4 linked regions of the Homo sapiens genome follow. The protein of the gene in region 1 purifies or fractionates together with the protein of each later gene. This does not show direct contact. Each region holds a gene or a part of one and is shown in the gene's direction. Other genes may lie near its edges.

Evidence for each region. The genes of interacting proteins can lie anywhere in the genome.
Region 2: the proteins of TAGLN (region 1) and TRAP1 purify together in Homo sapiens (co-immunoprecipitation; one large-scale study listed by IntAct). This does not show direct contact.
Region 3: the proteins of TAGLN (region 1) and USP32 purify together in Homo sapiens (affinity purification with mass spectrometry, with the first as the bait; one study listed by BioGRID). This does not show direct contact.
Region 4: the proteins of TAGLN (region 1) and RTCA purify together in Homo sapiens (co-immunoprecipitation; one large-scale study listed by IntAct). This does not show direct contact.

Annotation. Positions count from the first base shown.
Region 1 is NC_000011.10:117,205,167-117,207,964, forward strand, and holds the end of TAGLN (transgelin), read left to right. Parts: 3' UTR 1-830; coding exon of another isoform or gene 831-1,190; 3' UTR 1,191-1,514; coding exon of another isoform or gene 1,515-1,632; 3' UTR 1,633-1,900; coding exon of another isoform or gene 1,901-1,994; 3' UTR 1,995-2,298; downstream 2,299-2,798. Other genes in the region: PCSK7 (proprotein convertase subtilisin/kexin type 7 preproprotein), read right to left, coding at 831-1,190, 1,515-1,632, 1,901-1,994. UniProt on the Homo sapiens protein: Actin cross-linking/gelling protein. Involved in calcium interactions and contractile properties of the cell that may contribute to replicative senescence.
Region 2 is NC_000016.10:3,711,025-3,714,524, reverse strand, and holds part of TRAP1 (heat shock protein 75 kDa, mitochondrial isoform 1 precursor), read left to right. Parts: intron 1-3,500.
Region 3 is NC_000017.11:60,210,634-60,214,133, reverse strand, and holds part of USP32 (ubiquitin carboxyl-terminal hydrolase 32), read left to right. Parts: intron 1-471; coding exon 472-553; intron 554-2,035; coding exon 2,036-2,110; intron 2,111-2,619; coding exon 2,620-2,758; intron 2,759-3,015; coding exon 3,016-3,121; intron 3,122-3,500. UniProt on the Homo sapiens protein: Deubiquitinase that can remove conjugated ubiquitin from target proteins, such as RAB7A and LAMTOR1.
Region 4 is NC_000001.11:100,264,845-100,269,015, forward strand, and holds the start of RTCA (RNA 3'-terminal phosphate cyclase), read left to right. Parts: upstream 1-1,371; 5' UTR 1,372-1,531; coding exon 1,532-1,576; intron 1,577-1,679; coding exon 1,680-1,780; intron 1,781-2,655; coding exon of another isoform or gene 2,656-2,694; intron 2,695-3,307; coding exon 3,308-3,451; intron 3,452-4,171.

The DNA of each region.
Region 1 (2,798 bases):
AAAATTCAACCAACTAGCTCAGAAGAGGGGAGAAGGCCAAGGTTGAGAGAAGAGTCACAGCCTGTCAGGCAGATAGCTGGCCTCCGGCGGGAAGGCCATTTCCCTGAGCACTTGCAGAGGAAGACAGGGTGGTGGCAGGACTGGAGTGGCAGTGGCTCCCAAGGCTCTCTCCTCCAACATGTGCATCTGCCATCTGCTCTGCAGTCCTGCCGCAGGATTCCCTAGTGAAGCAGCTCAGGCCTGGGGGAGCCGTGTGTATCCCAGCTGTGCCGGCAGCATCATACCAATCGTGGGGGTGGTGAAGGAGCCAGGGGTTCATTCATGGTTGGTTTCTGATCAGGCATCTTGGGAATGGATAATGGAGGCAGCCGCTTTCAGGACAGGCATGTCCAGGGGCTCCTCCCAGCCTCTACCCCGAAGTCCTCTTCCCAAGTGACCCCAGTGATGTTTCCATTGAGATGCGCTCCTGGCTATGGCAGGCACCTTCTCAACTTATATGTGGGAAGGGGTCCCCCATGCTTGGGGGACCTAGGCAGCTGGCTTGGCCCAAGAGAGATGAGGATGGAGGCCAAACCAAAGGGGGGCGCCAATCCCCTGTCCAACACCTTCTCACCAAAAGCTCCCGTTTGGCTGGAGGCAGACCCTGTGGCTCTGACCAGACTTCTCTGGCAGCAATCCTCCACCATTTGTATCTTAAGAAGGCCCTCACCCTCTTTGAGTGGAGTCAGAGGATGCCTCAGATTCCAGATGTAAGCATCAGAACTGCTTTCTGTCAAGAGCTCCCTAATTTTGGGAAAGAAGAGCCTGTCCCACACTGTCAGGCCCTGAGGTCAGCAGATCTGCTCCTCCTTCCCGTGCGGTACGTCTAGGTGCTGATGAGGGCAGTCCAGGGCGCTCTTGTTCTGGGACAGGCTCCAGTCCCCTTGCTCCAGCAGGTCTGGGGCAAGGAGGTCAGAGGTGGTGGGAGGGCCCCTGCTCTCTGTTTCCACTTCGTCTGGATCCTTGCTGCTGCAAAGTGGCACTGATTCTAGCTCTGTCCCTTCCTCCTTGGCTTTCCGGCTCCGATGGGGCCAGTGGCAGGGTCCACTCCTACAAACTTGATTGGAAGCCACATTCCTCTGGCTCAAATATACTTCCAGCATGTAGTAAACAGTCCAGAAGACGGTGAAACAGCCTACCAGCACCAGGGTCTGGGGCCGAGGCAAGCACCTACGTGAGGCACTGTTTCCCGAAGCCTACAGCCTTTCTCAGCCCAGGACAATGAGCTCAGAAAGTCTTTTTCCTTCTAGGGACTGCCTTTTTCACCCAAACTGTTCCCTCTGCCCCCTCCCCCGACAAGGCCTGTCCTGTAAGAGTTAGGCTAGCAGGGTAGGAGCAATGCTATGAAACCACTGCTGGGACCCAGGTCTTCCCAGTCCTTCACCCCGCAGGTCACCCTGAGAAACACACTAAGAACTCCATCCCCCAGACAGGACAGTCCCATCTACCCGCAGCTTGAGTCTTGGCCCTAGTACCTTGAGGGTGTTGGGGGTGATGGTGTAACCATCTTCCTCAGGAATTTTCAGCCCCGGTGGGCAGGGCAGGGCGAAGTCATCGTGCAGGTATTTTCCACTCATGGCACTCTCTAACAGCCTGTGGAGAAGAAAAGAGGTGAGGATGCCCCACTGACTATGGTTCCTATACCATCTGCCCTCACCCATTTTCCTGCCTTACAGGTGAAGACAGGGAAGCCCCACAGCAAAAAGGAGAGGCCCAGACTGTGAGTTCCCAGCCCGGGGCTCCATCTACCGGCTTGACGCTGGAACTGGGAAGCACAGCTGGGGTTCAGAGGGCGATGGGCTCCCTAGGCGGCCCTTCCCCTGTGACTGGCCTTCCCTCTGACACATGCGGCTTTACCCACCTTTGTCTGTCCCTGATGTCTACTGCACTCCACACAGAGCCATATAGGGTCAGCTGCCATTGCCGGAGGATGCCGACCTGGAATGACTCATCCCCTAGGGCAGCAAGGGGCAGCTCGTGAGCCACGCCCCTCTGTCAGCCATGCCAGACAGCAGAGGCCCTGCCCGCCCTGCCACCCAAAGGGGCTCAGGCCACATGGTCTGCTCCAGGAGCTGCCTCACTGTGTCCCACTGACCCCAGGTTCTGCAGAAGGGCCTCACTGGGTGCCCTTAGGGATGGAAAGGGTTGAAAGGCTGTACTCCAAAGCAGAGTCTTGCTTTTCTCTCCCGTATTTTGGGGGTTCAGCTGGGATTAGAAAAAAATGTCTTTCCACCAAATTAAAGAAAGCTTTGAAAACCACTGGCCTAGAGAATACCTAACTGACTGGAGGATGGGAGGGTGGAGCTCAATTTCCAGTCTATAGGCTGATACTAAAGATATTCACAATTCATGGATATTGTGGCCTTCACTGATATGGTGACCTTCCACAAGTCACCTCAAACCTCTGGGCCAGTTTAAAAAAAATGGTGAAATGAGTCCTGCCCTTACCTGCCTACCGGGGCTGGCCGAAGGATGGTTATACGTAAAAGGACTTGAAATGTGGTTTCGACAAGGACTTTTTGTTGCTATCCTGAGGAAAGATGGATGGGTCACTCCTCCAGGGAATATGAGAGGTAGTATAAATGAACAGTTGCAGAGAGCAATGCCCATTTCACGGATGGGCACACTCTTGGCATCAACTCTCTTGGTCCAATGGCAACCCTATATATTGCACACGGGACACTTTCTGTGGGGACTCTGAGATGCAGAGGGACCAGATAACAAGCAGGAAAGGTAGGGCCTGGTGTGAGGGCACGAGA
Region 2 (3,500 bases), on another chromosome or scaffold:
ACCACACCCAGCTAGGTTTTGTATTTTTAATAGAGATGGGGTTTCACTATGCTGGCCAGGGTGGTCTCGAACTCCTGACCTCATGATCCACTAGCCTTGGCCTCCCAAAATGCTGGGATTACAGGCGTGAGCCACTGCGCCTGGCCTACCCTCAGAATATTTCTGTGAGGGGTGGGCTAGGATATCCGCTTGTGGACTTTATATTTGTCATTTTTGCCCATAACAGTTTATTCAGCAAATACATTTCCAATGCCCCCGAGTCGTCAAAGAAAATGTGACCCTGCTGTCTGGAGTCATAGGTGGCTGCTGAGCAGTGTACCAGGGCCATCTTGGTGGCCTGGACAGCACATTAGAGAAACAAGAGCTGCTTGCCCCAGGGTAAGTTTCACAGATGAGGAGCGATTTGGGCCGAGTGTCCAAGGCTGTTTTCACTGGAGGGGAGGGAGGAACGTTCCATGTCTGGAAAGCTGCAGGTGCAAGGGTAAGGAGATAGCTCTGAATAATTGGTTTGATGAAAGACTTGCGGGAGTGTGCAGGAGTGATGGTGAATGAGGCTAGCAGTTGTGTCTTTTCTGTCAGATATAAGCTTGTGCGTAGGAGCCTCATCCTGCATTCCTCAGGACAGTCACAGAGCCAGCCCTGGGCCTGGTGTGTGGGGAGCCCAGCCACGTGGCCCACCATGAGAGCTTTTCGTCAGAGCTCCAACTGTCAGAAGTGTCAGATGTGCCAGTAGAAGGATGAGGCCGCCTCCTAAAGGAGAGGGAAGACCTGGAAAGATCAACAGCAGACGCAGTCTCCCAAAGCAAACGTGATTCTGTGGTCAGGCAGGTACGGTGACGGGTTGGTCATTTTGCATGACGAGGTGACTGCCACAATCACCAAGGGTGCCGAGTCCAGTCTCCTGGTCATGCCAGATGCTCTTGTTTTCGTGAAATTGCCAGAACATGACTGAGGCAACCACGATAGGACTGGTTGGTGCAGGCGTTAAGATCTTGGGCCTTTTTGTTCTCTGTAAGCTGGAGCCTTTGCTGGAACTTCCTGTCTTGGAAATCAGAGTTGTGAGAGTAGGTCCCCTGCCAGCACCAGGAAGGTCGGGAGAGCTGGTTTCCTCACTTTGCTCAGGGCTCAAGTACTAGCTAGTTTGTTTCATCTTCCAAAAAGAGCCTCACCTGGACCCCGCTCCTGTAGGTGGTGCCTGCCTGCTGCGCCCTCCCCTTCAGTACTTCGTTTTGTTGACGGGTTTTGCCTCCTCCCTCTGCTCTCCCTTTGTTTGGAGCCTGTGCTGTTTGATTTCCGTGTCTTGTGTGCTGCACCCTTCAGGAGAATTCAGGTGAATTTCTGGTGCTCTCCGGCTGTTCTTTTCAGAGTGGAGGGGAGTAGTACTTGCTGGTCAGTTGCGACTCTGTCTGTGAAACAGCTCTTTGTGTTGCTGAGATGACGCTAGAGGTGTAGCGTCCATGACATGTTTGTCGTCTGATTAAGCTGTGGTGCTGGCACTTAGACGGCAGAGGAAGGTGTGGCCCAGCTGTCCAAGGCCACCAGGAGGACCTTCAGCTTAGTTAGGACCAAGGGAACTGAGTTATCTGAGTGCCTGAAAAAGAACACATCAGGCCGGGCGCGGTGGCTCTCGTCTGTAATCCCAGCACTTTGGGAGGCCGAGGTGGGTGGATCACTTGAGTTCAGGAATTTGAGACCAACCTGGCCAACATGGCGAAACCCCGTCTCTACTAAAAATACAAAGAAATTAGCCAGGGTGGTGGCAGGCGCCTGTAATCCCAGATACTTGGGAGGCTGAGGCACGAGAATTGCTTGAACCTGGGAGGTGGAGGTTGGAGGTTGCAGTGAGCCAAGATTGTGCCACTGCACTCCCTCCTGGGCGACAGTGCAAGACTCTGTCTTGGAAACAAACACATCAATCCGAATGTAAGAGATTAGCAAAGCGTTTATTGGTTACTGGGTGAGTAGTTGGCCTAAGCTAAGACAAAAGAGGAATCTCCAAGTATTTTGCTACCCCTTGGCAGGAAGAGAGGGAATGCAGCTTGCGGGGTGGGGATGGGGGTGTCAGGTTGATAAGAAAACTGTGGGAAAATAAACATTTACTCCTGCCCCCCATGTCAGTAAATACCATGTGACAAAGGTGAGTTCCATGAAAGAGGCTGTTACTGAGGCCTGTGATACTTGCTTGTCTCAAAATGCTGACATATCTTTTTTTTTTTTTTTTTTTTTTTTTTTTTTTTTTGAGACAGATTCTTTCTGTCGCCAGGCTGAAGTGCAGTGGCATGACCTCAGCTCACTGCAACTTCCGCCTCCTGAATTCAGGCAGTTCTCCTGCCTCAGCCTCCTGAGTAGCTGGGACTACAGGTGCATGCCACCATGGCCAGCCAATTTTTGTATTTTTAGTAGAGACGAGGTTTCACCGTGTTGGGCAAGATGGTCTCAATCTTTTGACCTTTTGATCTGCCTGCTTTGGCCTCCCAAAGTGCTGGGATTACAGACATGAGCTACCACGTCGGGCCTGACAAAGAATCTTGATAGCGATTGAAAATGTATCCATTCATACTCAAATGAAGTAAAAAGTGCTTTTGGGTTCAAAGCCAGAGAATGTTCATGGATGGCGTTTTTGGTGCCTCAAGTGTAGCCAGCTAGAACTTTTCTTACCACCGTCCTGCTTAGTCCTACTGAAGACCTGCCTTCTACTAGGAAGCTGCTCTTAGTCCACAAAGTGGCTTCCCTGTAGTTCCACAGCATTTAACAAAATAGATTTCAGGGAGTTTATTTGTGGTGTGGCTGGTTATTTCTGCTAAAACCACTAGGAATTACCATAAAAGCTGTAGCTTGGAGAAACAGTATCTACTTGCGGGAGTATTACTGCCACCTGTGTTTTTTTTGTTTTTGTTTTGGTTTTTGTTTTTTTTTTGTTTTTTTCAAGATGGAGTCTTGCTCTGTTTCCCAGGCTGGAGTGCAGTGGCACGAACTCGGCTCACTGCAATCTCCACCTCCCGGGTTCAAGCAGTTCTCCTGCCTCAGCCTCCCAAGTAGCTGGGGCTACAGGCATGCACTACCGTGCCCGGCTAATTTTTGTATTTTTAGTTGAGGTAGAGTTTCACCATGTTGGCCAGGCTGGTCTTGAACTTCTGACCTTGTGATCTGCCTGCCTCGGCCTCCCAAAGTGCTGGGATTACAGGTGTGCGCCACCGTTCCCAGCCCTGCCATTGGCTTTTTAACCAGGTGAATTCCTGTAGATTGGGTAGATTGAAAGGACATGTAGCTGAATCATTGGTTTTAAAAGGAATGGCTCAGTTACTTCATAGCCATATAATTAAGAAATGTGGCTAGAAGGTAAAAAATTGGCCAGGCCTGGTAGCTCATGCTTGTAATCCCAGCACTTTGGGGGCTGCGGCGGGAGGATCCTGTGAGTTTAGGAGTTTGAGACCAGCCTGGGCAACCTAGAGAGACCCCCATCTCTACCAAAAAACCCTTTTTTTTTTTTTTCCAATTAG
Region 3 (3,500 bases), on another chromosome or scaffold:
CCTGTCTCTACTAAAAATACAAAAATTAGCTGGGCATGGCGGTGGGAGCCTGTAGTCCCAGCTACTCAGAAGGCTGAGGCAGGAGAATTGCTTGAACCCAGAGGCAGAGGTTGCAGTGAGCCAAGATAGTGCCACTATACTCCAGCCTGGGCAACAGAGCCAGACTCCATCTTTAAAAAAAAAAAAAACAAAAAACAAAACGTATTCATGTAACCAAACACCACCTGTTCCCCAAAAACCTATTGAAATTTTAAAAAAGAGAAAGATAACGCTTATGAAGTACACATTGTCTTTCTGTCATACTGCCACCTAAGTTATAAATATTTATGAACAACTATAGTAGGCCAGATATTTGTGATATGTTATATAACTACAAAGAAGTTGTTTTTTTAATTGTTACTCATTTTTATCTCTGTATTTGTTTCAAGTTTACTAACCAAATAACAAAAACATTTCCTCCTCCTTACACAGAACTACCTTACTCTTCTGGATGATGAGGATCATAAATTGGAATATTTGAAAATCCAGGATGAACAACACCTGGTAATTGAAGGTACAAGATGGAAGCATGCATCTATATTAAATTTTCAAGGGGAAGAATTTAAAGAGTTACTAATAACCCATTTTATAATTTTCTCCAAAACAACTATTATTTGATTATTATGTTTTTATGATAAAGAAACCCTTTGGAAAAAAAAGAAAAAGAAAACCCTTTGAACTCTTATGTAATCCTACCATACAATTTAGATTGCTTTAAAGGGAAAATATTCTGTTTTTAGTCATTGACTGACAAAGAATGGGAATGGTAGATAAAAAACAAGTGAATTCAGTTTACACATTTATAGTTCCTTAAAATTTTCAAGTTGCTGCTTTGAGTTTGAGTAAAAAGAACAACTTTCTTGCATAGTTAGTAGCACAGGCTTTCATTAGTCACCAACATTGGCTACTCACTGACAGAGCTATTTGTATATTCATAGATTTACACACTGGCATGCACATGCCATTAAAAACTTTTTAAGTGTATCTTTTCCCATCAAGTTTTGTGGCAACATTGTTAGCTGCCTTTGTATTAAAATGAATAGGCCGGGCGCAGTGGCTCACGCCTGTAATCCCAGCACTTTGGGAGGCTGAGATGGGTGGATCACTTGAGGTCAGGAGTTCCAGACCAGCCTGGACAACATGGTGAAATCTGTCTCTGCTAAAAATACAAAAATTAGCTGGGTGTGGTGGCACGTGCCTGTAGTCCCAGCTACTCAGGAAGCTGAGGCACGAGAATCAGTCAAGCCCAGGAGGCGGAGGTTGCAGTGACTCAAGATCACATCACTGCACTCCAACCTGGGGGGACAAAGCCAGACTGTCTCAAAAAAAAAAAAAGGAATAAATTACTCTGACAGTTGTTACAATTTAAGAAAGAATTGTAATTTCTAATGTTTTAAGTATAAGAAATTCCATTGTTTCTGAACTTTAATTACTTCTGTAGATGGTTGAGTATAATTTTACTTCAAGTAGGTAATTGAGGGATAAGATTATTCAAACCAAGTGACTTTAAAGTCCTCAATATGAAGAGTAGGAATGGTTTTAGAGCCAATTACAGGCATGTGCTGCAAAAAGATGTTTGTCAACAAAAGACCTGTATACAGCAGTGGTCCCATAAGATTATAATACTGTATTTTTAGTTGTGCCTTTTCTATGTTCTAACATGTTTAGATACACAAATACTTACCATTGTGTTACACTTGCCTACAGTATTCAATGCAGTAACATACTGTACAGGTTTGTAGCCAAGGAGCGACAGCCTATACCATACATAGCCTAGGTTTGTGTAGGTACACTCTGTGATGTTCACACAAAGACAAAATCACCTAATGATGCATTTCTCAGAATATAACCTCGTCGTTAAGCAATGTATGTACTAAAATTAACTAGATTTTAAAACTTCTGATTTAGGAATAAGATGTCTTTAAAAAAAAAAAGCAATCGAATGGGTATAAATTAGATAGATAAGAAATTAACACATTCCTATCTGTCCTTCCAGTTCGCAACAAAGATATGAGTTGGCCTGAGGAGATGTCTTTTATAGCAAATAGTAGTAAAATAGATAGACACAAGGGTAAGTCTCCAGTATTATTTTTTAAAGAGATTATTTTAAATGTATTCTTTTTTTTTCTTCTCTCAACTGTTAAAGTGCTAACAACTTTTGGTTTTCTAGTTCAAAAGTAATTAGGGCCTTCTTCTTTTTCTTTTTTCCTGAAGCAGCATTTGATGTTGGCAAACCCACCATCAAATTATTTTCTAAATTTCTTTCTAACTCTGCAATTAAATAATTTATATGTTTTAAAAGACATACTAGAAGAAGAATTGTTTGAATTATTTTGAAAAATCATAGCAATTAAAAAGAATAATTGCTGCTTCTGGGTTACAAATGAGCATGGATCATCACTGTTGCCAGACACTCCATGAAAAGCCTTCTCTAGCATTTCAGAGACCTGCTAGAGAATTATTAGCACCATTTAGCTGATTATGAGAGTTATAAAAAACCTTTTCATTGAATATAAGTAACTGTTTGTGCCATGGCATATTACTACAGCTAAGCTTTGGTTCTCATATTGTTTGTTCCAGTTCCCACAGAAAAGGGAGCCACAGGTCTAAGCAATCTGGGAAACACATGCTTCATGAACTCAAGCATCCAGTGTGTTAGTAACACACAGCCACTGACACAGTATTTTATCTCAGGGAGACATCTTTATGAACTCAACAGGTAATCTTTCTGGAGTCACTGGCCTCTTAACCTGTGACTTTGATATAAACCCAATATCACCTAAATTTCCTCTTTTTTCACCCTGTGGGAGAAAGATTTTATCTTATTTGCCCTATTTAATATGAAATAGGCCAAGGAATACATCTCTTGTTTCAAAAAGAAAAGATATTTTGATGTGAGATGCTAGGCATTTTTGCGCCCACATGATTGTGATTTATGAGAATCTTTGGCAACAAATTTTCCTCTCAAACTTCTAGGACAAATCCCATTGGTATGAAGGGGCATATGGCTAAATGCTATGGTGATTTAGTGCAGGAACTTTGGAGTGGAACTCAGAAGAATGTTGCCCCATTAAAGCTTCGGGTAAGCAGGTTAAAATAATATAAAAGTATTTAATTCCTAATAGTTGTTTAATCATTTTTCTCTGCTTGTTTTTTGTGTTTAGCCTTTTAACTTAATAAATGTTTTTGGATCCTTCACTTGGTATAAACAAAAGGTCAAATTCTTTTGCTTGTTTAAATATATGCAAAATTACTACTGTATATGTAGTGGGTAGGATAAAGACCAAAGGTACACTCTAAATTCGGGATGTCATTCATTTTACTAATTTGTCAAACATCTTATATGAAGAGTAAACCTTTTTTGGTAATACTTCACTATTAGCAGTATTCTAACTGCAAGGTGGACCTCAGAGTCTTATTAATTACATCCAATCCAATCCATTTTCAACGTAACTAAGATA
Region 4 (4,171 bases), on another chromosome or scaffold:
GGGGCGGGTTCCCCCAATAAAGATGTCAGATAGGGGTACAGCTTTTTTATATTCCATCCCTACCATCATTGCCTTACTTCAACTTCTGATTATTTCTTGCTGGATAATTGTATCATTGGCATTTCTCCCTTCAGGCTCTTAAGCCTCTTATTCACCCTTCTCCTACTGCCAAAGCCTTCATTTTAAAATGCAAGTATCATTACTTCTCTGATTAATATCTTACGGCAAATTCCAGATTTGGTTAAGTACATAGTCTGTGTGTTCCCTAAAACATTCTCTGTCGCAAAGCAGCAGAGCGTTGGGATTACCAGACAGTGGTGTTCACATCAGACCACCCAGGTTCACATCTCAGTCTTCTAGTTAAAATTGTGTGACCTTGTAGCAAATTGTTTAACACAGGAAGCTGTAAAACAGTAAAAACAGTAAGTACTTTATCATGTTATGAATGCATGCAGTGCACAACACCTAAGTGCTCAATAAGTGTTGCCTGTTATTGTTACAGTATATTATTAATATATTGTAATTGTCCCCATAATAAACTCTAAATACAGTACATGTTAATTATTATTGAGGATGACATTGTAATTGATTACGTCTCAGTCTCTCCATTATACCTCCAATAACTTCGGGGGTAGAAGCTGAATTACTCTTTTTTGCTTCCCTAGAGGTTTACATATTATTTGGTACTCAATTATGTAGGAACTGAGCCACAGGCAGAACCAAGAAGCTGGCTATTGCTTCTGCCCTCGCCTGAGGTGAATTGTTAGCTGCACTGTTCCTGGGAGTCAAGAGCTTGCACTCACTCTCAAGCAAAATGGCATAACTTTGGCTTTTCAGAATATTAAACTAGTGATTCTGCCTTTCCCGCCTCTCAAATAAATGGTGTGTCACCCTAGAAAGAAAGATAACACACTCCGCATACACAAACACGCACACCGCAAGGAACCAAAGGCCAAGAGTATCAATGTACCAGGGCGCACACACTTCGAGAGACAGGTTCGGTGCATCGCAGGATCCCAATCTTTCTTGCATCTTCAGCTCTAAAAGTCGGCACCTCGGGGTATGCCAGGATCCTCGAGAAAACAGATATAAACACATATTTACCCACAAAACAGAGATAAAGCACAAGCCTGCGGGATAACTGGAGGAGTTATCTTACAGTTGAGACTTTCTGCAACCTGCAGATTTTGCCGTGCCCAGGGCACAAGTTTTTCAGGGCTCCTGGGCACCCCCGCGACCGTCATCTCACTTCCCCGGCAGCTTCCTCGCCCCGACCGCAGTGTTCCCAGCGCGGCTCCTTTAAGCCGAGCTACGCGCATGCGCACTGACTGCGGAACTGGGCGAACCCGGGGGTTCGTTTCTGCTGACTCCAGTGTCCCGAGAGGCGCCGCTTCTTCCGCTTTCTCGTCAGGCTCCTGCGCCCCAGGCATGAACCAAGGTTTCTGAACTACTGGGCGGGAGCCAACGTCTCTTCTTTCTCCCGCTCTGGCGGAGGCTTTGTCGCTGCGGGCTGGGCCCCAGGGTGTCCCCCATGGCGGGGCCGCGGGTGGAGGTCGATGGCAGCATCATGGAAGGGGTGAGTACAGAGCGAAGCGGCCGGGGCTGCAGCCTAACTAAGGAGGGGAGCTCTCACCACCGGTGTGCTTACTTCTCTTCTCCCTGTACCCCAACCTTTGCAGGGCGGCCAGATCCTGAGAGTCTCTACGGCCTTGAGCTGTCTCCTAGGCCTCCCCTTGCGGGTGCAGAAGATCCGAGCCGGCCGGAGCACGCCAGGCCTGAGGTAAATCTGGCTGGAGGGGGAGTTGGGCCGTGAAGCTGGGGGATCGGGGGGTCGGGCTGCCGGGCTGGGGCATCGGGAGTCCGAGTGGTGGAACCCAGAAGGTCCCAGACGCAGGTATGGGCGATCCAGGGCGGGGCACTCTGCCTGGGCGGTGGCCTGGGTTGTAAAGTCTTGAAAGCCTGGAGGGGTGAGTTTAGAAATGGTCTCGAGTTTTCTCTGTTTGACTAAATAGTGTCATTTGCTGAAGAGCTAGCTTTTAAAATGTTTTCTCACCTCACCGGGCATTCCAAATATCCGAACAGCACGTATGAGCTGGCAAGATAGATAGGGCAGAAATGCTTGTGACGCCAGAGGAAACCCTGTTTTATAACCAGTGCATTCTGGTTCTGCTGTCAGTTTTAGAATCATAAAACAGGAAAGAATCCTGAGATGTGTTATCCCAGCCTTCATTCATACCTCCAGAGAGCTGTTATGACCAGAATTATCTGTTGTGGAGAGGGAAACACCTTGACATTTGACCTTATTTCTTCTGTCTGGGTAGCTGGGCATGCCACTAGTTGAGCTTCAGGTACATGCACCTGCTAGAAGAGGACCCAGGTTTGAAGCCACACTGATTGCTTTGTATGTATTCTGTATTTATTACATTTTAATAAATCAGCGGTCTCAGTCTTTTGTCTACAGTTTTGAAATTACCAAAAGGCAATTACTGATATGTTAATGTTAATTGCCTTTGTCATAGTTTGCAGCCCTCCAGTTCACCAACAGGGGAATCCAATTCATTAGGCTGTAGGTGTTGTATTAGTTTGCTAGGGCTGCCATAACAAAATGCCACACACAGAGTGGAGCTTAAACAACAGAAATTTATTTCCTCACAGTTCTGGAGGCTGGAAGTCCAAGATCAAGGTCCTGACAAGGTTGGTTTCCTCTGAGAGCCATGAGAAAAGGATCTGCTCCAGGCCTGTCTTTTTGCCTCTTCACATGGTGGTTCCTCTGTGTACCTTGCCCCTAGCGTCTCTGTATGTTCTAGTTTTTTTTTTTTTTATAAGGACACCAGTAAGATTGTATGGTGGCCTTATTTTAACTTAATTATCTCTTTAAAGGCTCTATCTCCAAATATAGTCACATTCTGAGATACGGAGGGTTACAGTCTCAGCATATTAATTTAGGGGGAACATAGTTCAGCCCATACAGGCACCATAGATTGTTCAGTCAAGTGCAAGCGAGACTGGTGGCACTGAAATAACTATTAGTTTTCTTCTTTAGCACACTTCTAATTTGCAGCAATATATCAGGGTATGTATTTATAGTCAGAAATAACTGGTCTGCAAGGAAGTGTTAAAATGATACATACTAGCAGGTAGTCTAGGTGCATAAAAACCCAAAAGGAAGCTGACACTGAAGATGTGGCACTTACTGTGGTTAGACCTTGCTGTTTTCTTGCCATTGCAGTTTTATAAATTTGTCATAAAATGTGGGGATGTAGGCAGTCTGAATGCACACGTTTTGATGCAGTATTATGACCTGAAGGCCTCAACATTTATCTGGACTGGAAATGATTCGAGATTTGTGTGATGGGCAACTGGAGGGGGCAGAAATTGGCTCAACAGAAATAACCTTTACACCAGAGAAGATCAAAGGTGGAATCCACACAGCAGATACCAAGACAGCAGGGTATGTATCACTTAACATTCCATTTAAGTAACCTGGGTTTAAGTCCAGGTTTTGCCACTTTCTGGGCAAGTTGCTTAATGTCTATGAGCTTGTTTCCCTACTTTTATGTTTTTTTTTTTTGAGACAAGGTATCCCTCTTGCCCAGGCGGGGGTGCAGTGGTGCAATCACTGCTCACTGTAAGCTGTAACTCCTGGGCCCAACAGGTCCTCCCACCTCAGCCTCCTGCGTGGCTGGGACCATAGGCACACAGCACCATGCCCCGCTAATTTTTGTATTTTTTAAAGAGACAAGGTTTCGCCATGTTTTTCAGCTGGTCTCGAATTCCTAAGCTCAAGCAATCCACCCACGTTGGCCTCCCAAAGTTTTGGGATTATAAGTGTGAGCCACCACACCTGTCCAATAAATATTCATTGAATTAATGAAATTCATTATTACTGATAGAGACTTCCCAGTTCAATACTTAAGCATCATTGTGTAAGTGAGTTAAATAAAGATCTGTCTTTTGATAGCTAAGAGGCTATGTCGAATTCCCTTTCAAACTACTTATGAATATGATTGCTTTCACTTAACTTTGGAGAAGGGAGATAATGGCTCATTTAGAAAACAACCAGGCCAGGTGCGGTGGCTCACGCCTGTAGTCCCAGCACTTTGGGAGGCCGAGGTGGGTGGATCGCTTGAGCTCACAAATTTGAGACCAGCCTGGGCAACATGGCAAAACC